Linked DNA regions of Homo sapiens. The protein of the gene in region 4 purifies or fractionates together with the protein of the main gene of each other region. This does not show direct contact. Each region holds a gene or a part of one and is shown on either strand. Other genes may lie near its edges.

Region 1 (3,500 bases), on a different chromosome or scaffold from region 4:
TTTCACGCTCCCCTTTATGGAGTTGGAACAGGGAAAAAGTAAAATATTTCTACTCCTAACTAACATTAAACAGCTTTGTGCCAACACATGGGTAGGGAGAGTGCCGTGCCCACTGGCCGTGCATCAGCAACTGGCTCATCTGCTGTCAGTGTTTAACGTCAGCTCACGGGTGCCTGTGGCTGTGAAACAGGAAGCACATGCTTCAGCCTCCTTAAGCCTGAGGTGACATGCAAGTGGCAACCGGGGCCGTTTCACTGGTGAACCCGTTCATGTCTTTGTGAAGAAAGTTACATTTCAGGTCATGGTTGTGAAACTCTTTCCCTATTTTTATTATTTTTTATTATTATTTGAGATAGGGTCTTGCCCTGTTGCCCAGGTGCAATCTCTACTCACTGCAGCTTCAACCTCCTGGGCCCAGGTTCTCCTCCCACTCAGCGTCCTGAGTAGCTGGGAAGTCAGGCATGTGTCACCACGTACAGCTACATTTTTGTGTTGTTGTTGTTGTTGTTGTTTATTATTATTTTTTTGAGACGGAGTCTTGCTCTGTCTCCCAGGCTGGAGTGCAGTGGCGCGATCTCCGCTCACTGCAAGCTCTGCCTCCAGGATTCCCGCCATTCTCCTGCCTCAGCCTCCCAAGTAGCTGGGATTACAGGTGCCCGCCACTATGCCCGGCTAATTTTTTGTATTTTTAGTAGAGACGGGGTTTCACCATGTTAGCCAGGATGGTCTCGATCTCCTGACCTCGTGATCCACCCGACTCGGCCTCCCAAAGTGCTGGGATTACAGGCGTGCGCCACTGCACCTGGCCTCCCCCATTTGTAAACGCTGATTTGTTCAGATTTTGAGACAGCTCTGTGTGAGGAGTGTCGTGCCGGCCCCTCTTGGTGGTGGCTGGGCTGCTGCTGTTGCCACTTGTCTGGAAACCATTTGTGAGTCGGAGTCTTGCTCTGTAAACCAGGCTGGAGTGCAGTGGTGTGATCTCAGCTCACTGCAACCTCCGCCTCCCGGGTTCAAGCAATTCTGCCTCAGCCTCCCAAGTAGCTGGGATTACAAGCGCCTGCCAACACGTCCGGCTAATTTTTGTATTTTTAGTGGAGACAGTGTTTCACCATCTCAGCCAGTCTGGTCTTGAACTCCTGACCTCGTGAACCACCTGCCTCGGTCTCCCAAAGTGCTGGGATTACAGGCATGAGCCACCACGCCTGGCGTGTTTAAGTTCTTTTAAAGCAACTTCATATATTAAAGGGATTCGTGATATTTTCCCAAATTTGTGTTCATAACTATTTTTTATTCCCTCACATTAGCAATTTAAGTAGCAAAGATATTTAACGTAAGTTAAAATAGTTTATTATTTTGTAATTAGGAAATACTGGACTAAGTGATATAGGATATGCTTTATTTCATATTTATAAATCTTATGGATATAAGTAGGTTTTTCAGATGGTTTTTGTTTTGCTTTGGTTATTTAGGAGTACACTGTTGTCCTGTATGCCTCCCCTGTGGTTGCAAAACTTAATTGTTAAATCCTTTCTCTATTTCTCATAGGTGGTACTTTCTATTTTAACACCTCAAGGTTGAAGCAGAAGAATAAGGAGAAGGATAAGTCGAAGGGGAAGGCGCCTGAAGAGGACGAAGGTATATTCATCTGATGTTCTTCAGTCAGTAGCTGCCTCTGGATGTCTTTACATTTCTGTTTTCCTTTTAGCAAGGTGAAACCAGTCTGGAAAATGGGGAGATGGGCCGGGTGCAGTGGCTCACACTTGTAATCGAAACGCTTTGGGAGGCCCAGGTGGAAGGATCACTTGAGGCCTATACCACATAGCGAGACCCTGTCTCACTGCAAATTAAAAGGCTGGGCGTGGTGGCTCACACCTGTAATCCCAGCACTTTGGGAGGCTGAGGCAGGCGGATCACCTGCACCCTGGCCAACATGGTGAAACCCCGTCTTTACTAAAAATAGAAAATTAGCCGGGCGTGATGGCACACGCCTGTAATCCCAGCTACTCGGGAGGCTGAGGCAGGAGAATTGCTTGAACCTGGGAGGTGGAGGTTGCTGTGAGTGGAGATCATGCCATTGCACTCCAGCCTGAGCAACAAGAGCAAAACTCCATCTCAAAAAAAAAAAAATTTAAATTTAAATTTAAAAAGACCCTATCTATACAGAAAGAAAAGAAGAAAATAATTGGCCAGGCGTGGTGGTGTGCACCTGTAGTCATAGCTCAGGAGTTGGAGGAGCTTGAGCCCAGGAGTTGGAGGCTCAGCTTCAGACTCACAGCCCCAGGGGGCAGAAGGGTTGAACTCAGCTTCAGGAATGCTTTGCTTTTGGATCCTTGAGGCCTCTCGCTGGAAATCAGCGTTGTTAAGATGGACGCCCTGCTCAGCAGAGCTCATCTTTCTAGAAAGGCACCTGGCCTTGGAAGGCGAGTGAGGAACTGTCATAAGGACTTTTTCTTCCCATGTTGCTTTTCAGGAAAGCTTTCAGGATGTGGAAATGATGGTTCAGCTATTGGATGAGGGGATTATTATTGTGAATTCGAGTTTAGCAGGAGTTTGTTTCAGGAGTGACGTCCTTCTTGATTGATTTTGTGTGAGACGCTGCATTTGCCAAGGCCAGGGACAGCTTTACTCTGTGAGAGAGGAGCTCTGACTCTCCCTACTGAGCTCTCGAGGGGAGGTCATAACTGCGGGAAGGGACACCAGTGTTTCGCAGGTGGATTCAGTTTAGGCGTTTCTGGCTTTAGGCTCATCTTCAGCTTACTGTTGGTTTTACGGTAAGTGTCAATGCTTACAGCCACTCAGAACTATCTTCTAAAAGACTTCTGAATCTTCATACAAAATTGTTCTGAATTGATTTCAGGGCTCTTTCCCTGTATACTTCAACATTTCAATAAAGTGTGTCCTTTGACTTTTTTTTTTTTTTTTTTTTTTTTTTTTTTTTGCCAGAATCTCACTCTGTTGCCCCGGCTGGAGTGCAGTGGTGCGATCTCAGCTCAATGCAACCTCCCCCTCCCGGGTTCAAGCAATTCTCCTGCCTCAGCCTCCGAAGTAGCTGGGATTACAGGTGCTCACCACCACACCCTGCTAATTTTTTGTTTTTTGTTCGTTTGTTTGTTTTTGAGACGGAGTCTCGCTCTGTCGCCCAGGCTGGAGTGCAGTGGCACAATCTCGGCTCACTGCAAGCTCCACTTCCTGGGTTCATGCCATTCTCCTGCCTCAGCCTCCCTAGTAGCTGGGACTACAGGCACCCGCCACCGCACCCGGCTAATTTTTTTGTTTTATTAGAGACTGGGTTTCACCATGTTAGCCAGGATGGTCTCGATCTCCTGACCTTGTGATCTGCTCACCTTGGCCTCCCAAAGTTCTAGGATTACAGGCGTGAGCCACCGCGTCAGGCCCTCTTTTTGTATAGTAGAGATGAGGTTTTGTCTTGTTGGCCAGGCTGGTCTCAAACTCCTGACCTCAGGTGATTCACCCACCTTGGCCTCCCAAAGTGCTGAGAT
Region 2 (3,500 bases), on a different chromosome or scaffold from region 4:
GTTACATCAAAAGACATGTTTCACCATGCACAGACTACCCAGTTTGCCCCATCCCTGTTCTGGGTTCTAGAGATAAACAAAGGTCAATAAGAACTCCCAGAGCTGCCATCACTTAATGGCAGGGGTCCAAGCACAACTGAAACCTGTGCCCTCTGTGGTAAAGCCAGTGAGCAGAGTCAGGGCTGCATCAGAGAAGGAGTAGGAGGGAAGAGACAGAAAGAGGCCTCACTAGACCAGTGGCCTCTGAAAATAGGGCAAAGGAGGCCTCATATCCCAATCCACACTTCCCCTGTCCATTACTCATTTCTCCTCAGTGTATTATGTTTCTCTGTGGTTTTTTTCCCTTCTTCGACAAGTTGGAATTCCACTGCTTGGAATCCATGAGGGATTGGTTCCAGGACCCCCTTCGTTACCAAAATCTAAGGATCCTCAAAGGCCCTGATATGAAATCGCATAATATTTGCATATAATCTGCGCACATCCTCCCATATACTTTGAATCAACTCTAGATTACTTATAATACCGAGTGCAATGTAATTTTTATACTGTTTTGTTTTTAAATTTGTATTATTTTTATTGTTGTATTGTTATTTTTATTTAGCTCCAAATATTTTCGATCTGAGGTTGGTTGAATCTATGGACATGGAATCTGTGAATATGGAGGGCCAACTGTACAAATAAAAATCACCACACATTACATTTCCTAAGTTTGTTTTTTGTTTTGCTTTTGAGACAAGATCTTGCTTTGTCACCCAGACTGGAGTGCAGTGGTGCAATCACAGCTCACTGCAGCCTTGACCTCCCAGGCTCAAGCGATCTCCCACCTCAGCCTCCAGAGTATTTGGGACTACAGGCGCGTGATACCACACCCAGCTAATATATATATATGTATATTAGAGATGGGGTCTCACTATGTTACCCAGGCTGGCCTCAAACTCCTGGGCTCAAGTGATCCTCCTGCCTCAGCCTCCCAAAGTGCTGGGATTACAGGCATGAGCCACCGAGCCTGGCCAAATTTCCTAAATTTTTAATGTACTGAGATTTTGAAATTTACATTTCCCACAATTGATTTATTCAGAAATGCCTAGTAATACATTCCTATTGCTTACTCTGCAATTGGCTTTGAAAAGAGGAAAGGAAATAAATGAGATATTTGTTGAGCACCCGCTATGTTCCAGGCACTGGCCTAAGTATATTAAAGCACAATCTCATCTAAATATTAAAACAGCACCGAGATAGGAATTCAAATAAGGATTCAAACCCAAATTTGGCTGGCTCCAATGTGCATGCTTTTTTCAATACACCACCCTTCCTTCCCAGAAGACCCCTGTAATGTCACACAAGGGTTAGCAATTGCCTGGCTTCCTCTATAGAGATTCATGCCTAATGTTGAGAAAGAAAATCTTAAGACTGGATGGAAAATCCATAATGAGTGCTTTACTTTGTGTTCATAATATACTTTTGGATGGTATCAAGTATGGGAATGATTTTACCAAAATGCCACAGGCAATTTTTATTTATTGAATCTTGTCTATTTGAACTTTGAGATTATTTGCAAGCTTCTCCCCAGGCTCGAGTACAAGAGAAAATAATTTGCTGTTGTATTGATTCAAGGATTGGCGATCTATCCAGGGAAAGGAAGGCCAAGTGGGGACAACCTACTGAATGTGGCCTCCAGATCTGCGGCTTTGGCTCACCTATCCTGTGATGATTTTCCTTGCTCAGGAAATAGGATGGGACTGCAGTCCCTGGGAGCCACAAGGCACCCAACCTGATGCCCCACCATGTTGCAGGCACTGCCAGGGGCATTGTGATTGCCACAGGAGACCGGACGGTGATGGGCCGCATAGCTACTCTCGCCTCAGGCCTGGAGGTTGGGCGGACACCCATAGCAATGGAGATTGAACACTTCATCCAGCTGATCACAGGGGTCGCTGTATTCCTGGGGGTCTCCTTCTTCGTGCTCTCCCTCATCCTGGGCTACAGCTGGCTGGAGGCAGTCATCTTCCTCATCGGCATCATAGTGGCCAACGTGCCTGAGGGGCTTCTGGCCACTGTCACTGTGAGTGGGTCAGGCTGAGGTGCCACCAGGGGAGGGTCTCACTACTCTTTCCTCAGAGTGATAGAGGCACAGTTGCTTGTAGCTTCTCACTACTTTTTCCCCCTAGAGTCACTTATTGGATGCGATACTCAGAGATCACTTAATACATGGCTTAGGGTATGAGTTGAGAAATCTCAGGTGGGGCTATTCTTAGGCACTCAGTTTCTCTTTTGGAGCTTGTCACGGCTGCCTTTTCTCACGATCTGCCAGCAGTCTGGGTCTCATTCCGTCCAAGTCTCCTGTAGAGGCTGTCTCAAAGGTCACCAGTCACTAACTAGCAAATCCAGGGACCTTTTCTCAGCTCTCCTCCCTAACTCTGCTGCTGAAACAGATACTGCTGTCCACCCTCCTACCATTCTCTCTTTTGTCGATTGCTGTGATGTGTCACTATCCTGGTTCGCCTCTCCTCTGTCCCTTCCTGCTCCCCCTACACTGATTCTCAGGCCTCAGCTGTCTGTTCTTCCTACACCCTGAGCAAGAGCCAATCTCCTCCCAGTTTGCAGTGTCCCTTCTGTGTTGATGACTCAGACATCCCTATGCTCAGCTCTGCTCTGGCCCTCTCTGGAGCTCTAGTCAAACGTCTTAAACCCCCTAATGGGCATTTCATCTTAACAGATACTCATGATCTCAACACATCTAAAATTGAACATTCATTATTTACAGCTAAGTCCCACCCATTCAAGTTAGTGGAGTAGAATCAGGGGAGGAGGAATGGAGCCACGGTCTAGGGTAAGGTTATGGCCATCTCCGGCTTCAGCCTTAACCTTTTTTATTCTCCTCTTTCTCTACCAGGTGTGCCTGACCCTGACAGCCAAGCGCATGGCACGGAAGAACTGCCTGGTGAAGAACCTGGAGGCGGTGGAGACGCTGGGCTCCACGTCCACCATCTGCTCGGACAAGACGGGCACCCTCACCCAGAACCGCATGACCGTCGCCCACATGTGGTTCGACAACCAAATCCATGAGGCTGACACCACCGAAGATCAGTCTGGTGATTGGGTGCTCCAGAGGGGGTGGATAGGATTAGAGGAGGCTGAGGGCAGTGGCGTGGTGGGGTGAGTGGTTGAGATAAAGGCTCTAAAGGGAGCCACGCTCCTGGTTCCCCCTCATTTCCTCCCAGGGGCCACTTTTGACAAACGATCCCCTACGTGGACGGCCCTGTCTCGAATTGCTGGTCTCTGCAACCGCGCCGTCTTCAAGGCAGGACAGGAGAACATCTCCGTGTCTAAGGTAGGGGGTCAGGACACACACCAGGTATGTTTTGGGGGTGTCTCCAAAGCCTCTTGCTGGCCCCAGCTTTCCTTCTCACATGATGTGGCTGCCTTGGGGGTTTCAGTGCCGCCTTCACCTGATCCTCCACTCCCTTCCCTCCCATGCTGACACTGAATTCTTGTCTCTT
Region 3 (3,500 bases), on a different chromosome or scaffold from region 4:
CAGAAAGAAGTATAATTCTAACCAGGTGTCAGAATCTCAATGGGTCATGGAAAAAAGGATGTTCTAAGAATGATTAGAACTTGCATATACAGAGATTGAAAAATAGAAAGCATAATGAGTATAAAAGAGCTTTTCAAGCAAAGTATCTATACTTTAGGAAGATTAATCTTACAATTAATAAAGTATAAAAGTCAAGCAGTTAAATATGGAGGCTGTTGCAGTGGTATAATCAAGAAGAGAATAGCGGACCTGAAATAAGATTTTCTGGATGTAAAATTGACTGAGCCTAGCACTGAAATATTGGCAGTGATATGGAATCATAAATAACAACCAGGTTCTGGTCCTACAAAACCGGGAGGAAAGTATTGCTATTAACCTAGAAAGGAAAATTTTTAGAGAGAGTCAGGTTGTGGAAGGAGATTGGGAACACATAATAAATTTAGTTTCTAACATGTTGACTTGGTGGTATTGTATCGTGTACATGTATATATATATATATATATGTATGTCTTACTCAGTTCAGGCTGCTATAACAAGAATATCATAGGCTGGGTGGCTTAAGACAACAAAAATTTATTTCTCAGTTTTGGAGGCTGAAAGTCCGAGATCAGGGTGCCACCATGGTCAAGTTCTGATGAGGATCTTATTCCTGGTTTACACATGGCCATCTTACATTTTTGAAAGAAAGCAGCAGCTCTCTTCTGTCTGTTTTTATAAGGGCATTAATCCCATCCTGAGGGCTCTACCCTCATGATTTAATTACCACATAAAGGCCCTATCTCCCACTATCCTCCCATTGAGGGTTAGAGTTTCAGCATTTAATTTTGGGTAGACACAAACACGAAGTCCATAATAATATACAGCAGTAAGTAGAAAACATGAAGGAATTTAAAAGAGAAATCAGAGCTAGAGACTGCCTTGAGGATAGAAATTGAATGTTGAAACCATGGCAGCGTATGCTGAAGATCATTCAGAGTGAGCAGAGCTAGAACTCTGCCAAAATCTCTTACTTAAGGGAGTTAGTGGAGAAAGGAAAACCTGATTCTGATCCTAGAAAACTGGGAGGGAAGGGATAACAGAAAAGAACAAAGAAAATGTATAGGTTCTAGGAAGAAAGTTTTAAGAATGACAGGGATAGTGTCTATATAAAAATGAGATTAAGGAATGTGATTAAGCAGTAGCCTTTGGGTTTGGAAACCAGTACATGACTAGTATCCTGGAAAAGCAGTTTTTTTAGAGTGCTGGGACTGGAAAGAGTGGGAGGAAATAATTTATTCTTATATATATGAATAATAGATGTATTAATAGTTCTGAACAGTAGTCTCAGAAATAGCACTTACACTACTAAAACAAGTCTATCGTGCTATTCAAGTAGAATGCAAGTTTTTAAAATGTAGGATAAATCTATAACTCAAAATAAGCAACCAGCATAGAGTTGGTATTGTAGTTTATGATTTGCGCAGATGGGGATTTAACTCTTTTTTCCCCACTGTATGTGATTAAAATGTATCAGACTCATCTTGAGTACATATTCATCATAAATTGTAAAGCAAATGCCAGTTTTCTAAACCTTTACTTAAACTATTTGATTACATGTAATTTTTATTTTTACTTAATGAAAAAAAATGATGGATCATAAACTCTTTTGTTTTTCTAGATTCCTGGATTTTGTGAGAATGAGAAAGGTGTTGTCCCTTGTAACATTTTGGTTGGCTATAAAGCTGTATATCGTTTGTGCTTTGGTTTGGCTATGTTCTATCTTCTTCTCTCTTTACTAATGATCAAAGTGAAGAGTAGCAGTGATCCTAGAGCTGCAGTGCACAATGGGTAAGTTTTTAAATAAGCTTCAATATAAAAGCTTGGGTAGCCTCTTCTTGATAATTGCCAGTTTATCCAAGGAAACTTTAAGGTAAAATAAACTTATACAATTTGCAGAATTACTTTATTCATGAATGACAGGATAAGAAAATCTTGTTTTTACTGGAGAATGTCAGACTTTGGATATTAAATAATAGCTGTGATAACCTCTGATCCACAGTGTTTTATATTTTCATACTAAAAAAGAGGCTCTATTATATTTGTGACTACTAAGGGAATAGCTATTTCTCCTTCTACTGTTAACTTTAGGTGGACCAGTCCACTTACATAGAACTCTCAGTTCCCTAGACCCAGAGAGCAGATTTTTCTAGGTTGGTTGTATTGGACAACCCAGAAAGAAACTTCAGGGTTTCTTTTATCAATCTTCCTTCATATAGAGCACTACTTCTGGTACCCTTATTTGACTGTTTTAATATCTGCTGTTGCTTATCTAGTTATATGTGCTACCAAAGACAAAAAGTATAAACAAGTAGAATATAAATATTAATGAGAAAATATGTGACGGGTTGCTTTTCCTTTATTTTGTTCCTTTGGTCATTGATTATTTTATTAAATTATTAGAGTTTTAGATGGAGGCATTTATCATGTGTTTATAAAAACTATTCATTTATACAGTTCACCTTATACTTTGATACATTATCCCACTTATGTGAAATAAGCCTGTGAAATGGAACTAACATTCTCATTTTTCCATAATGAATTAGTGAGAAATACATCTTTCTCAAAATGGTCTTAAAAGCAGTTTATGTAATTGTTGTTTTTTCTGATAATCAAGTGTATTAGGGTTCTCTAGAGGGACAGAACTAATAGGATAGATAGATATATATAAAGGGGAGTTTATTAAGTATTATCTCACATGATCTCAAGGTCCCACAATAGGCCATCTGCAAGCTGAGGAGCAAGGAGAGCCAGTCCTAGTCCCAAAACTGAAGAACTTGGAGCCTGATGTTCAAGGGCAGGGAGCATCCAGCACAGGAGAAAGATGTAGGCTGGGATGCTAGGCCAGTCTAGTCTTTTCACTTTTTTTTTTTGCCTGCTTTATATTCTAGCCCTGCTGGCAGCTGATTAGATGGTGCCCACCCAGATTAAGGGTGTGTCTGCCTTTCCCAGCCCACTGACTGAAATGTTAATCTTCTTTGGCAACACCCTCACAGACACACCCAGCATCAGTACTTTGCACCCTTCAATCCAATCAAGTTGACACTCAGTATTAACCATTACAAGTCAGTACTTTGCATCCTTGAATTCAATTGACACTCAGTATAACTATCAGAAGTCTACCCATTGTCAACTTGAACCCGTATACATCTCCTGAGATCATACATAATCTGCAAATAAAGACAATAATAAGGTCATACAACTAACCTTACAACTGAAAACGCACCAGTCCCCAACCAAAATACTAATTACATAAAGTTAACAATACTTAAATGCTGATGTGAAGTCAGTAAATCTTATGTCACATGATAAAGGAGAATGGAAATAAAATGAAGATATTTTCTTAGTACAAGTATATGCATGCATGAACATGTTTTTGACAAAACAAGGAGGAAGTACTCACAACAATTACAGCCCTCGTTTCTGCAGCTGGACATGTGGTCATAGCTGGTATTGATGACTGC
Region 4 (3,500 bases):
TTAAATAGATGATAGATTAGAGAGATACATAGATAGATGAGAGATAGATAGATAGGATAGATAGATACACACATACATATAGATAGATAATGGTGATGATAGAGAGATAGATCAATCAGATAGATAGATACATAGATAGAATAGATACATACATATGTACGTACATAAATTAGATACATATATACATACATACATAGATTAGATAGGTAGATACATACATACATACATGGATAAATAGATTAGATAGATAGATACATAGATACATACATAGGTGCATTAATAGATTAGAGAGATAGATGATAGATTAGAGAGATACCTAGATAGATGAGCAATAGATAAGATAGATAGATATGTACATACATATAGATAGATGACAGATAGATAGATAGATAGATAGATAGATAGATAGATAGATAATGGTGATGATAGGTAATAGAGATAGATAGATACATACATAGATACATGGATACATAGATAGATAGATAGATAGATAGATAGATAGATAGATAGATAGATAGATAGATAGATCATACATACATACATACATACATACATACATAGATGCATAGATACATAGATACATGGATACATAGATGGATGACGGAGAGAGAGAGAGAGAGGAGAGATTCTCTATACTAAAAGCAGGATCTTTCCACGTCAACACTATAGACATTTGGGGCCGGGTGATTCTCTGTGGTGGGGCCATCCTGTGCAGTGTAAGGTATTGAGAAGCATCCCCGGGATCCACCCACCAGATGCCAGGAGCACCCCCACAGTTGCGACAACCAGAACTGTCCTCAGACATTACCCAGTGTGCCGTGATGAGAAAAATCACCCCTAGTTGAAACCACTGTCAAATGGTAGGCAGATAAATGATAGAGATGAGAGATAAATGCTAGAAAGGTATAGATAGATGACAGACAGAGAAGATTAATAAATAAATAGATATAGGTGCCAGAGAGCTAGATATGATATATAGATAAATTGATAAATGATAGATATGATAGATAGATATAGATGGATAGATAGTCACTAACAGAGACTCTCTCATGCTCAGGCAGGGTGTCAGCCTCAGCACTGCTGCCATGTAGGGCTGGAGGATTCTCTGTGTTGAGCCTATCCTGTGCACTGCAGGGCACTGAGCATCTTCCCAGGCTCCACCCACCACGCCCCAGGAGTACACCCTCCAGTTGTGACACCCCAAACTGCCCAAGATATAGACAAGCATCCCCACTGGAACAGAATCTCCCGCAATTCTGAACCACAGGGTGAGAGGCAGGCAAGATAAGACAAGATGATCCTTCCAGAGACCTGGAAGGAGAAGCAAGATCATGTCCCATCCCCCAGGTCTCAGGGAGAGAATGGGCTGGGTCAAGGGACTCTGGATCACTTCCTTCCATTTCTCCATCTCCCAATGTGCTGTATGCATGCTCTTGTTACTATAATAAAGTAAGTAGAATTGAAGAGACTCTGTCGTTACAAGCCACACATGTGTAGATTAAGCAGATATTCCCTGTGCAGGTCAGGTCTCAGGGGAAATGGAGGATTTATTCTCCACCTTTCCAAGACCAAGGGCCCCGCTGTGTGTACGTGTTATTCTCATCAAACATGCTTATCTGCCCGAGGACTAAATGCTGGCTTCCACATGTGACATTTTTACTTGCAAAACTGGATCAATGGGGAGCGTCATTTATACTGTCCCATGCAACAAAGGGAACTGAAAAAGTGCAGGAATGAGGAGACTCAAATCCACGCACATTCAGAGACTCCAATCCACACTCAAAGAGACTCAAATCCAACTCATTCAAAGAGACTCAAGTCCACACTCATTCAAAGAGACTCAAATCCACACTCATTCAAAGAGACTCAAACCCACACGCAATCAAAGAGACTCAAATCCATACTCATTCAAACAGACTCAAGTCCACTCATTCAGAGACTCAAACCTACACGAATTCAAAGAGACTCAAATCCACACTCATTCAAAGAGACTCAAGTCCACAATCATTCAAAGAGGCTCAAACCCACACGCATTCAAAGAGACTCAAATCCACACTCATTCAAAGAAACTCAAATCCACACTCATTCAAAGAGACTCAAATCCACACTCAATCCAAAGACCAGAGCCAGCCTCTTGGAAGCACTTGCTCCTCCGGGCTTCCCTGGGACGTTTAAAGTGGTTTTGAAGATGTCGTATGAGGATGAATGCAAGACTTTGAGTTCACACGGTGCTGACTGGCAGCGCCTGCTGCTCAGAGCTGTGATGGCCTCCTCAAGGGGCAGTTGTGCAGCAGTAGCTCTGATGGAATCTCCAGGAACCCACTCTCCAGCAAGGAGCCCTGTCACATGCATACCTGCATGAGCCTCTCAGCCAGTGGTTGAAATGGGCATGTTGCAGACAGCCTCTCTGTGAGATGCAATAGATGAAACCTGAGGCTCAGTGAAGCTGGAGGCCTCCCAGGCACTAGCTGCTCAGTGAAGGCGCTGTTGTCCATCTACAGTGTCCATATGTCCATCACAAGCTCTTGGCATGAACACAGGAAACTTCTAGGATACTCAGGCTATTACCCTGGGGTTGGAGGCATTCTGTCTCCAGGTATTTATTTATCACTCATCTGTTCTTGGGGTGGAGGAGAATGAGACTACTCCTGCACTCAGGACAGGGACAGACCAGCAGGTGGCCACACGTGGAATAGAAACAGGAGATACCCCTTCAGTCTCAGCCACAGGGAATGAATGAGCAGGGTCCCTGTAGGGGCTGTGACTTTGTAGATGAGAGACCAGAATAGATTAACATGGCCTCAGTACTGTTTGTTGGATGGTTGAATGGATGGCTGCATAAATAGATGGGTGAATGAATAAATGAATGAATGAGTGAATGAGTGGATTAGTACATTAGTGAGTGGATGGATGGATATGTAGACAGGTGAATGAAGAGTGGATGAATGGATGAATGGATGGATGGATGGATGGATGGATAGATGAGTAAATGGATAAGGAATGAATGAGTGGATGAATGAATGAATGAAGGGATGATTGGATGGATGAATGAATGAGTAGATGAATGAATAAATGGATGGATGGATGAACAGATGGATAGATAGGTGGATGAATAAGGAATAAATGATTGAATGAATAGATACATGAATGGGTGAATGATAGTGGGTGTATTGATAAATGGGTGGATGACTGAATGGATGGATTGAAGGATGAACGGATGGATGGATGAGTGGATGGATAAGGAATAAATGAATGAATGAATAGATAAATGAATGAGTGAATGAATGGATCATGAATAAATGAATGGGCAAATGAATAGTGGATGTATGGATAAGTGGATGGATAAACGGATGGATGGATGGATGGATAGATGAGTGGATGGATAAGGAATGAATAAGTGGATGAATGAATGAATGAGTAGATGAATGAATAAATAGATGGACGGATGAACAGATGGATAGGTAGGTGGATGGATAAGAAATGAATGAATAGGCTGGGCG
Region 5 (3,500 bases), on a different chromosome or scaffold from region 4:
TCTGTCCCGGGCGCAGTTAAGGTAGATCACAATGCCTCTGTCCACATGTGTGTGGATATGTATTTACTTATTATTTATTATTTATTTATTTATTTATTTTTTTTTGAGACAGAGTCTCGCTGTGTTCCCCAGGCTGGAATGCAGTGGCACGATCTCGGCTCACTTCAGCCTCCGCCTCCCGGGTTCACATGATTCTCCTGCCTTAGCCTCCCAAGCAGCTGGGATTACAGGCATGCACCACCACGCCTGGCTAATTTGTGTATTTCTAGTAGAGACAGGGTTTCACTGTATTGGCCAGGCTGGTCTCGATTTCCTGACCTCAGGTGATCCACCTGCCTCAGCCTCCCAAAGTGGTGGGATTACAGGTGCTAGCCACTGCACCTGGCCGTTTGTGGATATTTAAAAACACAGTCCTAAAAAACTGTTGGGACAGAGAAGAATCAGAATGAAAATGAGAAAACCTCCGATCCAACAGTGGCAAACACGACGATAGGAAAGGTGTGTGCTGGCCCTGGTGCTCCTCAGAGGATGTGGGAGGGTCAGGCACTCGTCTGGAGGAAGGTTGTGAGCCGAGCACCCATGGAAAGAGGGAGGAAAAGTGGGAAGAAGGGCATGCTGGAGACTGGAGCTGGGGTGGGTGCGGAGAGAGGGCCACTGTGCTGCGGTCCACAGTGAGAAAGAAGCCGCCAGACGGAGCCACGATTCAGTGGAAAGTAAAGCTGCAGGTGGCCTGGCTTGCTGGGAAATGTCTGTAGCCTTTGGGGTAGTCGTGTGGGACACAGCGGAGCCAGGACTGGAGTGGCTGGTGGGCTAGTGCTGAGGCCTGTGGGGCAGCCTGTTGTATTAAGGGGACCATCTGGTGGGGTGCTTGTCCGCTGTGGGAACTTTGCTGAGGGTGGATCGCTGGTCCCTGGCAGGGCCGACCCTGAGAGCTCTGGGTTCCTCGTGGTCTTCCCGGTGTCCCGAGGCTTTGGGGTGACCCTGCCCTGGCCCCGTTCTGACCGTACCGCCTGCCCCGGCCAGTGCTGCCCACGGTGCTGCTGGATGAGATCGAGGCGGCCGAGCTGGAGGGCAACGATGACAGGATCGAGGGCGTGCTGTGCGGGGCCGTGAAGCAGCTGAAGGTCACCCGCGCCAAGCCTGACAGCACCCTCTACCTGAGCCTCATGTACCTGGCCAAGATCAAGCCCAACATCTTCGCCACTGAGGGCGTCATTGAGGTTTGAGCCGGGCCCCTGGCAGGAGGCGAGCAGCGCTGGGGCCCTTGGCTCCCCTCCTCACCTCCCCCTTAAGTGTCCCTCCCGGCCCACCCCAGCTTTGCCTCTGGGGCCAGCGAAGCTCCCACGTGACATGCGCCCTCCCTGGCAGGCTCTGTGTAGCCTCCTGCGGCGGGACGCCTCCATCAACTTCAAGGCCAAGGGGAACAGCCTGGTGTCTGTGCTGGCCTGTAACCTCCTCATGGCCGCCTACGAGGAGGACGAGAACTGGCCCGAGATCTTTGTCAAGGTGAGCGTCCTCTCCCGGGACGGTGAAGATGGCAGAGCGCCACGGGGTGGGGCAGGGGCGAGAGAAAAGCAGAAGTGTGTTCTCTCCAGAGGGCTGTGTCTGACAGCCCTGGTGGTGATGGCACGGTCCCTGCTGCACCCAGAAGCTGGAGAGGGCCGCCTGGGCACCCAGTCCCCGGGCAGCAGGCGGGTGTTCCCCAACCTGGCTGCTGCCCGGCTGGGCTCGGGGCTGAGGGTGTGGCTGCCACACAGGTGTACATCGAGGACTCCCTGGGGGAGCGGATCTGGGTGGACAGCCCTCACTGTAAGACGTTTGTGGACAACATCCAGACGGCCTTCAACACCAGAATGCCCCCCAGGAGCGTGCTGCTGCAGGGGGAGGCGGGCCGCGTTGCGGGCGACCTGGGTGCAGGTGAGACACACGGCCAGCCAGAGAGGGCGGGTGTCCAAGCCCCAGGGCAGGGGAGGGGTGGGAGGATGGGCGGGTGGGAGGCGCTGCATGGAGCCCTCTCCTTGGTTTGCAGGGAGCAGCCCACACCCCTCCCTCACGGAGGAGGAGGACAGCCAGACGGAGTTGCTGATCGCGGAGGAGAAGCTGAGCCCCGAGCAGGAGGGCCAGCTCATGCCCAGGTAGCTGCGTGCCTGCCCGGTCCCAGTTGGGGGCGGCGGGGGCGGGCGCCTCGGGGCCACCTTCCTCCCTCCTCGCTCCCTCCTCTGGCCTAGGTACGAAGAGCTCGCGGAGAGCGTGGAGGAGTATGTCCTGGACATGCTGCGGGACCAGCTGAACCGGCGCCAGCCCATCGACAACGTCTCCAGGAACCTCCTGCGGCTCCTCACCTCCACCTGCGGCTATAAGGAGGTGCGGCTGCTGGCGGTGCAGAAGCTGGAGATGTGGCTGCAGAACCCCAAGGTGCGGGGGCGCCCCGGGGGGGTGGGCGGGGCAGGGGGTGGGGGCAGGCTCTGTGTGGCCCCACAGCGTGGTCTTCCTGCCGGGGTGGCCGTGAGCCCACTGCTCCCTCCTCGGCCCCGCAGCTGACCCGGCCGGCCCAGGACCTGCTGATGTCCGTCTGCATGAACTGCAACACGCACGGTTCCGAAGACATGGACGTCATCTCACACCTGATCAAGATCCGCCTCAAGCCCAAGGTCCTCCTCAACCACTTCATGCTGTGCATCAGGTGCGTGGCGAGCCGGGGCAGAGCGGGGGTGCGGGTGGAGTGGGGGTGTGGGTGGGGGTGTGGGCGGAGCGGGGGTGCGGGCGGAGTGGGGGCACAGGCGGAGTGGGGGCACAGGCGTAGCGGGGACAGGGTCTGTACCCTCACCTCACCCAGGGAGCTGCTGAGCGCGCACAAGGACAACCTGGGCACCACCATCAAGTTGGTGATCTTCAATGAGCTCTCCAGCGCCCGGAACCCGAACAACATGCAGGTCCTCTATACCGCACTGCAGCACAGCTCAGAGCTGGCGCCCAAGGTAGGCCCAGGGTCCCTGGCCTTGCCCTCCACGCCGGAATATGGGGCTCTGGGCTGGAGGGGCACGTGGCGTCTGGGGAGGCCGGTGGATTGGCAGTGCTTCGTGGGAGAATGCTCCTCGGTCTCGGGAAGGAGCTTTTGAAACTCACGTGGGCATGAGGTTGAGCCGTTTCTAGAGTGGGTGCAGCCACAGCGCCCAGCGTCTTTCTCAGAAACTGACACTCTGTCCATTTAGGAGGGAGCCACATTGAGTCTTAAAAGCCACCCAGGTTTCTGAGCTAAGACCCAGACCTGTTGCCTTCTGTTTTTATTTTTCAAGCTCATTCCTGCCTTTGGATAGTAAGGTAGTTTTTAAAAATTTTGTGGAGACCGGGTCTTATTATGTGGCCCAGGCTGGTCTCAAACTCCTGGGCTCAAGCGATCCTCCTGCCTCAACCTCCCAAAGTGCTGGGATGACAGGCATGAGCCCCTGTGCCTGGCCCAGACCCGCCTCCTGTGCATTGGGTCCCTCGGTTAAGCAGGG
Region 6 (3,500 bases), about 150 Mb from region 4:
TGGTGGGCACTGAGGGACACTGAGGCACTGCGGACAAAAGGCCCAGCCCAGCTTCACTCCCCCTTACTCCCATGCCTCAGTTTCCCTGGTGGCATGGAGATCACAGAATACTTATCTCTGGGGAGGGGTGTGAGGGTTCCGTGGGTGAATCCACATCCATAGGAGGCTCTCCGTCCACACAGCTTCTGTTATGATCATTTCCTTCGTCACCAGCCTCCCATGCAGTGGCAGCACCTGGCACTCACAGCCCCACTGGCTTCTTCCACCATGCCCGCCTCTGTGACCCTCGGCTCCTTTGCTCCCTCCTCTCCCCACCTGAATCCTCCCAAGTCCTGTCCCTTTTGAGAAGCTCCTGGAGTCATGAGCGCTCTACTGAGGCTGTGGCTGCCTGGACGTGGTTATAGCGATTGTCCACAGACTTCAGTTTTTGCCCAGGTTCCACCCGCTTGCCCTATGAAGTCTGTGGTGGAGCTGCCATGAGCCACATGCTCCTGCCTCCCTCCCGGTCTCTCAGCCTGCAGCAGTGCATGAGCGTCCTGGTGCCCTCAAGCAACAGAAATGGATTCTCCCCCAGTTCTGGAGGCCGGAAGTCCAAAAGCAGGGCGTGGGCAGGGCCGAAGCGCCTCCAAAGCATCTCAGAGAGGATGCATCCTGCATCCTCCAGCTTCTGGTGGTGGCTGCCAGTCCTCGCGTTCCTCAGCTTGCAGCTGACCCTCTCTAATCTCTGCCTGTTGTCACACGCCCTTCTCCCTGTGTGTCTGTGTTCTCACACGGGGCACTCCTCTCTGATAAGGACCCCAGTCCTTGACTAAGCCCCCAATCCAGTGTGACCAGCGCTGTTCCTTGTTGTTCTCTCCCCACCTCCACCTCATCTCTGCCCACCCCCTGCCTAGGTGCACCAACATCTTGAACAGCAATGGCGAACTCCGGGGCTTTCGGCCTCGGGACCGGGACGACATGGTGAGGAAGATCATCGAGCCGATGGCTTGCGATGGCCTCCGCACCATCTGCATCGCCTACCGGGACTTCTCTGCAGGCCAGGAGCCCGACTGGGACAACGAGAATGAGGTCGTGGGTGACCTCACCTGCATAGCTGTCGTGGGCATTGAGGACCCTGTGCGGCCCGAGGTAGCCACCACCTTCTCTGTGAGCTGCCCTGGTAACTGTGCCCTCTGCCCGAGCTTGTCCGGACTGGTAGGGGCGGCCTTCCTTCACACACAGCTGCTGCGGTCCCTCCGTAGTACACTTGAGCCCCGTCCTGGGTGCTCTCACCCTGACACCCGCACAAAGGCTCTGTCCTGCCTGCTGGAAAGCCCTTCCCGCTTGACCTATGGGCCCAGCTCAGGCTCCACCTTCTACCAGGTGAGAAGGTGGCAGTGGCGGAGAGACCGTCGACATTTGGGATCTGATCCACCCAGGACCGATGGACTGGAGGTGGTGCTGAAGCCTGAGGGGACACAGGTTTGGGGCACAGGGTGGGCGTTTATTGGTTGAGGGTTTGGCTGGGGCTACTCTACGGTCAGGACGTCCTGTGGCGAGCTCACAGCAAAGGTCCTGGCGGGAAAGGGAGCCCAGAAGCATATCCCCATATGGACGATGCCACCAGGGGAGTCCAGATGAGGGGACCTCGAGGGCCGCGTGGCAGATGCCATGGCCTTGACACTGGGAAGTCACTTTGTTGTTGAAAGATCCCAGACCCTGGAGAGTGTGGAGGATGGCCGGCCCCGGAGGGAGAATGCAAGGCATGGGGTGCCCCTCTGTCTCCCCAGGGCCTCTGCATGGCACCCACCTGTGTCACAAGCAGGGCCACTGTGACCCTGACAACTTGTCTTTGTAGGAGCCACCCTGGGGGTGCAGGTGCAACCTGGGAGGAGAAGCTTCTGGGCTCTCCTTCGGGAGACAGGCATTCATGTATTGGATCATGTAGCAAAAACACTCAATTCAAAGACAGTGCGTCTAAACGCCAGCCATGGCTCATGTCAACAGAGCAGCCCCGTGCCCCGAGGAGAACATGGTCACTGCGCCCAGAGAGGGAGCACCTCGAGCTTGCCCTGGGAGAAAATGGGTGGTAGCGGAGGACAGGGGACAGAAGTCCAGCGAGGGAAATGGGCCCCGCAAAGGCGGGCAGCGGCATGAGTCCCGGGCCCCACTGAGCCTGGGAGAGCAGAAGGAGAGGGTGCTGGTGAGGCGAAGCAAGGCCACACTTGGGGACAGGAGCCATCGAGTCCCTCTGTTGGACCAGGGAGCAACTGAAGCACAGAGCAGAGGAAGGAATCTTGCCAGAGGGGCCTGGGGAATAGGGACAGCTCCTTTCCAGCTTAAGAGTGGCTGAGAGAGAGTCCAAGGGGTAGACCACAGTGACAGGGCCAGGCTGCGGAGGCTGGGCAGACCCCCACAAAGACTGGCCAGCCTGGTGGTGGCTGAGGAGGACGCACAGAAGGCCCAGCGAAGTCCTGGGTGCCGGCAACAGGCAGTAGGACACAAGGGCCTCACTGAAACCGCCAGGGTGCTTGGAGATGCGGCACGGCTGCAGCCAGAGGAGGGCCCGTGAGGCTGGGCCCTGGGGAGCCATAGGAAGCCTGTGGCTGGGGTGGTATTGATGCTGGAGCTGGGCCGGCCGGGGGCACTGGCAACTTCTCCAGACACCTGGCTGGCTGCTGTGCTGTGGGGCCTTGGGGAGAAGGCAGGGAGCAGGGCTGAGCAGGCGAGGAAGGACAGCCTGGCCTGGCCCTTTGGGGCCATGGGGAAGGAACTGGGCTACACACACTGGGCCTGAGGAGGGAGGAGGCCTGGGTTCGCAGCTGCTGGTTTTCAGGCTCGTCACGGCCACTTGGTGGCAGCAGAGGGGTGGCTTCCAGACTTTTCAGGGACAGGCATTCGCTGGCTCAAAGGAGAATTGTCTTCTTGTGGCTCGTGATCTTGTTATCCAGCACCCCAAGATCCTCAGAGAGTACGAAGTGTCCCCGAGGCTGGCAGTGAGGCCACTTAGTGGTATATGCTGCAGGAACCATTGGATCACCCTGTCACAGCTTAGAGTGGGGCCCCCAGCTGTCTCCCTGGCAAAGATCACAGCCCCCCTGCCCATGGCCTCAGGGGGCGCCAGGATTCAGGGACTCCCAGGTCAATGTCCTCCCCTGGTGTCTCCCGGCTGCCCTACCCCTGGCTCCCACTCCTGCGTGTCTACTCCCCACCGCCGCAGGCTCCCCAGGCCTGGCGGCTCGGCCACACCTAGGCTTCTACACTTACCCGACGGTGCTCACAAGCCCCACTGCCTAGGCTTGACCTCCTCATTCAGGTTCCCAAACTCTGAACCTGGCTCCTCTTCTCCTCTCCCCCTGCCCGTCTACCTCAGTGGCATCAGCTGCCTGACCCTGTCTCTCTGTCCCCGAGCCTGAAGAGCCACATACCTCTTCATTTGGGAACTGTCTTCCCTGTCCCCCCACCACTGGGACAATGCCACCACCTCCCGGCCAGTCTCCTGGCTTCCCGCTCTCAACCCC
Region 7 (3,500 bases), on a different chromosome or scaffold from region 4:
CCAAGTGGCTGAAACTACAAGGTGTGTGCCACCACATCCAGCTGAAGAAACAATTTTATCCAGTATTTTACTTTGACCAGCTTAAATTGTATTTCAGCTCAAGAAGGAAAAAAAAAAAAAAAACTAATTTGTGGTTTAAGAGTAAGAAGGAAAAGATAAGAGTTTGTTAGAAGTCCATATAGGGTCTTTCATCTCAACTTTCTTTTTTTTTTTTGAGAAGGAATTTCGCTCTTATTGCCCAGGCTGGAGTGCAACGGCACGACCTCAGCTCACCACAACCTCCGCCTCCTGGGTTCAAGCAACTGTCCTGCCTCAGCCTCCCGAGTAGCTGGGATTACAGGCATGCGCCACCACATCCAGCTAATTTCGTATTTTTAGGAGAGACGGGGTTTCACCACGTTGGCCAGGCTGGTCTCGAACTCCCGACCTCAGGTGATTCGCCCACTTTAGCCTCCCAAAGTGCTGGGATTACAGGCATAAGCCACCGTGCCTGGCTCATCTCAACTTTCCACTGACAAGATTCATTCATAACTGGGAAGGAGGCAGAGCAAGATGGCCAAATAGAAGCCTCCAGTGATCACCACCTCCAAGGAATATCAAATTGACAACTATCTACATAAAAAACCACCTTCATAAGAACCAAAAATCAGGTGAGCAATCACAGTACCTGGTTTTAACTTCAGATCACTGAAAGAGGCACTGAAGAGGATGTGAAAAACAGTCTTGAATCACCTACACCACCCCTCCCCCATCCTCTCAGCAGCAACCACATGGTGTGGAGAGACAATCTATGTGCTTAGGGAAGTCGAAAGCAGTGACTGTGGAATTTTTGCATTGAAACTCAGCGCTGCCCTGCCACAGTGGAAAGAACTCAGCCAGCACCCATGGAGGAAGAATTTAGACCAGCCCTAGGCAGCCAGTCCTGCCACCATGGGCTACAGTGCTCTGAGGTCCTGAATAAACTTGAAAGGCCATCTAGGCCACAAGGACTGCAATTCCTGGGCAGGTCCTGGTGCTGGGCTGGGCTCAGAGCCAGTGGACCTGGGGTGCATATGATATAGTAAGACTCCAGCTGGGGCAGCCAAGGGACTGCTAGTGTCACTCCCCCTACACAAGCTCAGGCAGTGTAGTTCACAGCTCTGAGAGAGAGTCTTTCCTTCTGCGTGAGGAGAGGAGAGGGGAGAGTAAAGAGGACTTTGTCTTGCAATTTGGATACCAGCTCAGCCAAAGTAGAATGCGGCATAAGGCAGAGCCCTAAGGCCCCAATTTCAGTCCCCAGTTCCCAGACAAGATTTCTAAACACACCCTGGGCTGGAAGGGAACCCACTGTCTTGAGGGGTATGACCAAGTCCTGGCAGGGTTCATCACGTGCTGACTCAAGAGCCTCTGGGCTCTGAATAAGCAGTAGTGGTAGCCAGGCAGTACTCACTATGGGCCTTGGGTGAGATTCAGAAATGTGCTGGCTTCAGGTGTGACCCAGCACATTCCCAGATGTTGTGGCTATGAGGAGAGTCTCCTGCTTGAGTAAAGGAGACAAAGGCCAGGTGTGATGGCTCACACCTGTAATCCCAGCAATTTGGGAGGCCAAGGCAGGCGGATCACCAGAGAGCATCTCTGGACCCACCCAAGGCCAGAGGGAACTTGCTAGATTTGCCACCTGCTGATTGTAGAACCTCTGGGCCTTGACTGACCACAGGCAATAACCACACAATAGTCACAATGGGCCTTGGGCAAGACCCATTGCTGTGCTGCCTTCAGGTCTGACCCAGTGAAGTCCCAGGGATGGTGGCCACAATGGTGCTTGTGTCACCCCCTCCCCCAGCTCCAGGCAGCTCAGCACAGAGACAGAGACTCCATTTGTTTGGGAGAATGTAATGGAAGAGAACAAGAGTCTCTGCCTGGTAATCCAGGGAATTCTCCTGGATCTTACCGAAGAGCACCAAGGCAGTACCTCTACAAATCTGCAAGAGCCACAGCATTATGGGCTTGAAATGTCCCTAATGCAGATACAGCTGCAGTGACCAAGATCACAACACCCAAGTCCCTTCAAATAGTTAGAAAGCCTTCCCAAGGATGACAGGTACAAACAAGCCCAGACTGCAAAGACTATAACAAATACCTAACTCTTCAATGTCCAGACACCAACAAATATTCACAAGCATCAAGACCATCCAAGAAAACATGACCTCACTAAACAAACTGAAATAAAGCACCAGTGACCAATCCTGGAGAGACAGAGATAACTGACCTTTCAGAGAATTCAAAATAGCAGTTTTGAGGAAACTCAAAGAAATTCAAGATAACACAGAGAAGGAATTCAGAATCCTTTCAGATAAAGTGAACAAAGAGACTGAAATAATTATAAAGAATAAAGCAGAAATCCTGGATCCGAAAAATGCAACTGACATACTGAAGAATGCATCCAAACCTCTTTTTTATTTTATTTTTTTGAGACAGGGTTTTGCTCTGTCTCCCAGACTGGAGTGCAATGGTGCAATCCTGGCTCACTGCAACCTCTGCATCCCAGGCTCAAAGGATCCTCCTACCTCAGTGTCCCAAGTAGCTGGGACTACACGCGTGCGCCATCATGCCTGGCTAATTTTTGTATTTTTTGTAGAGACAAGGTTTCACCATGTTGCCCAGACTGGTCTCAAGTGATCTGCCCACCTCAGCCTCCCAAAGTGCTAGGATTACAGGCATGAGCCACCTCACCCAGCCTCAGAGCTTAACACAAGACCTGAACAAGCAGAAGAATTAGTCAGCTTGGAGACAGGCTATTTGAAAATACACAGCTGAGACAAAAGAAAAAAGAATGAAAAAGAATGAAGCATGCCTACAAGATCTAGAAAATAGCCCCAAAAGGGCAAATCTAAGAGTTCATTGCCTTAAAGAGGAGTAGCTAAAGAGACAGCGGTAGAAAGTTTATACAAAGCAATAACAAAGAACTACCCAAACCTAGATACCAATATTTAAGAACAAAAGATTATAGAACACCAAGCAGACTTGACCCAAATAAGACTACCTCAAGACATGTAACAAGCAAACTCCCAAAGGTCAACGGTAAAGAATGGATCCTGGCTGGGCGTGGTGGCTCATGCCTGTAATCCCAGCACTTTGGGAGGTCAAGGTGGGGGAACTGCCTGACCCTGGAGTTCAAGACCAGCCTGGACAACGTAGAGAAATGACGTCTCTGTTAAAAACAACAACAGGCCAGGCACGGTGGCTCACACCTGTAATCTCAGCACCTTGGCAGGCTGAGATGGGAGGATCACTTGAGGCCAGGAGTTGGAGACCAGCCTGTTAAACACAGCAAGGCCCCATTTCTATTAAACCACCACCACAACAACAACAAGAAGCACGAATGGATTCTAAATGCATCAACAGAAAAGAAACAAACAACATACAAAAGAGTTCCAACACATCTGGGAGTAGACTTCTCAGCGGAAACCTTACAGGCCAGGAGAGAGTAGCATGACATAAAGTGCTGAAGAAAAAAAACA

Evidence for each region.
Region 1: the proteins of P2RY8 (region 4) and SPG7 purify together in Homo sapiens (co-immunoprecipitation; 2 studies listed by BioGRID and IntAct, with this or other methods). This does not show direct contact.
Region 2: the proteins of P2RY8 (region 4) and ATP1A2 purify together in Homo sapiens (affinity purification with mass spectrometry; 3 studies listed by BioGRID and IntAct, with this or other methods). This does not show direct contact.
Region 3: the proteins of P2RY8 (region 4) and SERINC1 purify together in Homo sapiens (affinity purification with mass spectrometry; 3 studies listed by BioGRID and IntAct, with this or other methods). This does not show direct contact.
Region 5: the proteins of P2RY8 (region 4) and INTS1 purify together in Homo sapiens (co-immunoprecipitation; 2 studies listed by BioGRID and IntAct, with this or other methods). This does not show direct contact.
Region 6: the proteins of P2RY8 (region 4) and ATP2B3 purify together in Homo sapiens (affinity purification with mass spectrometry; 3 studies listed by BioGRID and IntAct, with this or other methods). This does not show direct contact.
Region 7: the proteins of P2RY8 (region 4) and ATL2 purify together in Homo sapiens (affinity purification with mass spectrometry; 3 studies listed by BioGRID and IntAct, with this or other methods). This does not show direct contact.

What each region holds. Positions count from the first base shown.
Region 1 is NC_000016.10:89,511,403-89,514,902, forward strand, and holds part of SPG7 (mitochondrial inner membrane m-AAA protease component paraplegin isoform 1 precursor), read left to right. Parts: intron 1-1,545; coding exon 1,546-1,635; intron 1,636-3,500. UniProt on the Homo sapiens protein: Catalytic component of the m-AAA protease, a protease that plays a key role in proteostasis of inner mitochondrial membrane proteins, and which is essential for axonal and neuron development.
Region 2 is NC_000001.11:160,125,759-160,129,258, forward strand, and holds part of ATP1A2 (sodium/potassium-transporting ATPase subunit alpha-2 precursor), read left to right. Parts: intron 1-1,793; coding exon 1,794-2,062; intron 2,063-2,627; exon of another isoform or gene 2,628-2,637; coding exon of another isoform or gene 2,638-2,763; intron 2,764-2,893; coding exon 2,894-3,092; intron 3,093-3,221; coding exon 3,222-3,331; intron 3,332-3,500. UniProt on the Homo sapiens protein: This is the catalytic component of the active enzyme, which catalyzes the hydrolysis of ATP coupled with the exchange of sodium and potassium ions across the plasma membrane.
Region 3 is NC_000006.12:122,454,808-122,458,307, reverse strand, and holds part of SERINC1 (serine incorporator 1), read left to right. Parts: intron 1-1,657; coding exon 1,658-1,827; intron 1,828-3,500.
Region 4 is NC_000023.11:1,527,186-1,530,685, reverse strand, and holds part of P2RY8 (S-geranylgeranyl-glutathione receptor P2RY8), read left to right. Parts: intron 1-3,500. UniProt on the Homo sapiens protein: G protein-coupled receptor for S-geranylgeranyl-glutathione (GGG), an endogenous metabolite present in lymphoid tissues.
Region 5 is NC_000007.14:1,497,890-1,501,389, reverse strand, and holds part of INTS1 (integrator complex subunit 1), read left to right. Parts: intron 1-1,023; coding exon 1,024-1,220; intron 1,221-1,368; coding exon 1,369-1,506; intron 1,507-1,757; coding exon 1,758-1,917; intron 1,918-2,029; coding exon 2,030-2,135; intron 2,136-2,228; coding exon 2,229-2,415; intron 2,416-2,537; coding exon 2,538-2,683; intron 2,684-2,836; coding exon 2,837-2,978; intron 2,979-3,500. UniProt on the Homo sapiens protein: Component of the integrator complex, a multiprotein complex that terminates RNA polymerase II (Pol II) transcription in the promoter-proximal region of genes.
Region 6 is NC_000023.11:153,552,142-153,555,641, forward strand, and holds part of ATP2B3 (plasma membrane calcium-transporting ATPase 3), read left to right. Parts: intron 1-893; coding exon 894-1,128; intron 1,129-3,500. UniProt on the Homo sapiens protein: ATP-driven Ca(2+) ion pump involved in the maintenance of basal intracellular Ca(2+) levels at the presynaptic terminals. Uses ATP as an energy source to transport cytosolic Ca(2+) ions across the plasma membrane to the extracellular compartment.
Region 7 is NC_000002.12:38,300,774-38,304,273, forward strand, and holds part of ATL2 (atlastin-2), read right to left. Parts: intron 1-3,500. UniProt on the Homo sapiens protein: Atlastin-2 (ATL2) is a membrane-anchored GTPase that mediates the GTP-dependent fusion of endoplasmic reticulum (ER) membranes, maintaining the continuous ER network. It facilitates the formation of three-way junctions where ER tubules intersect.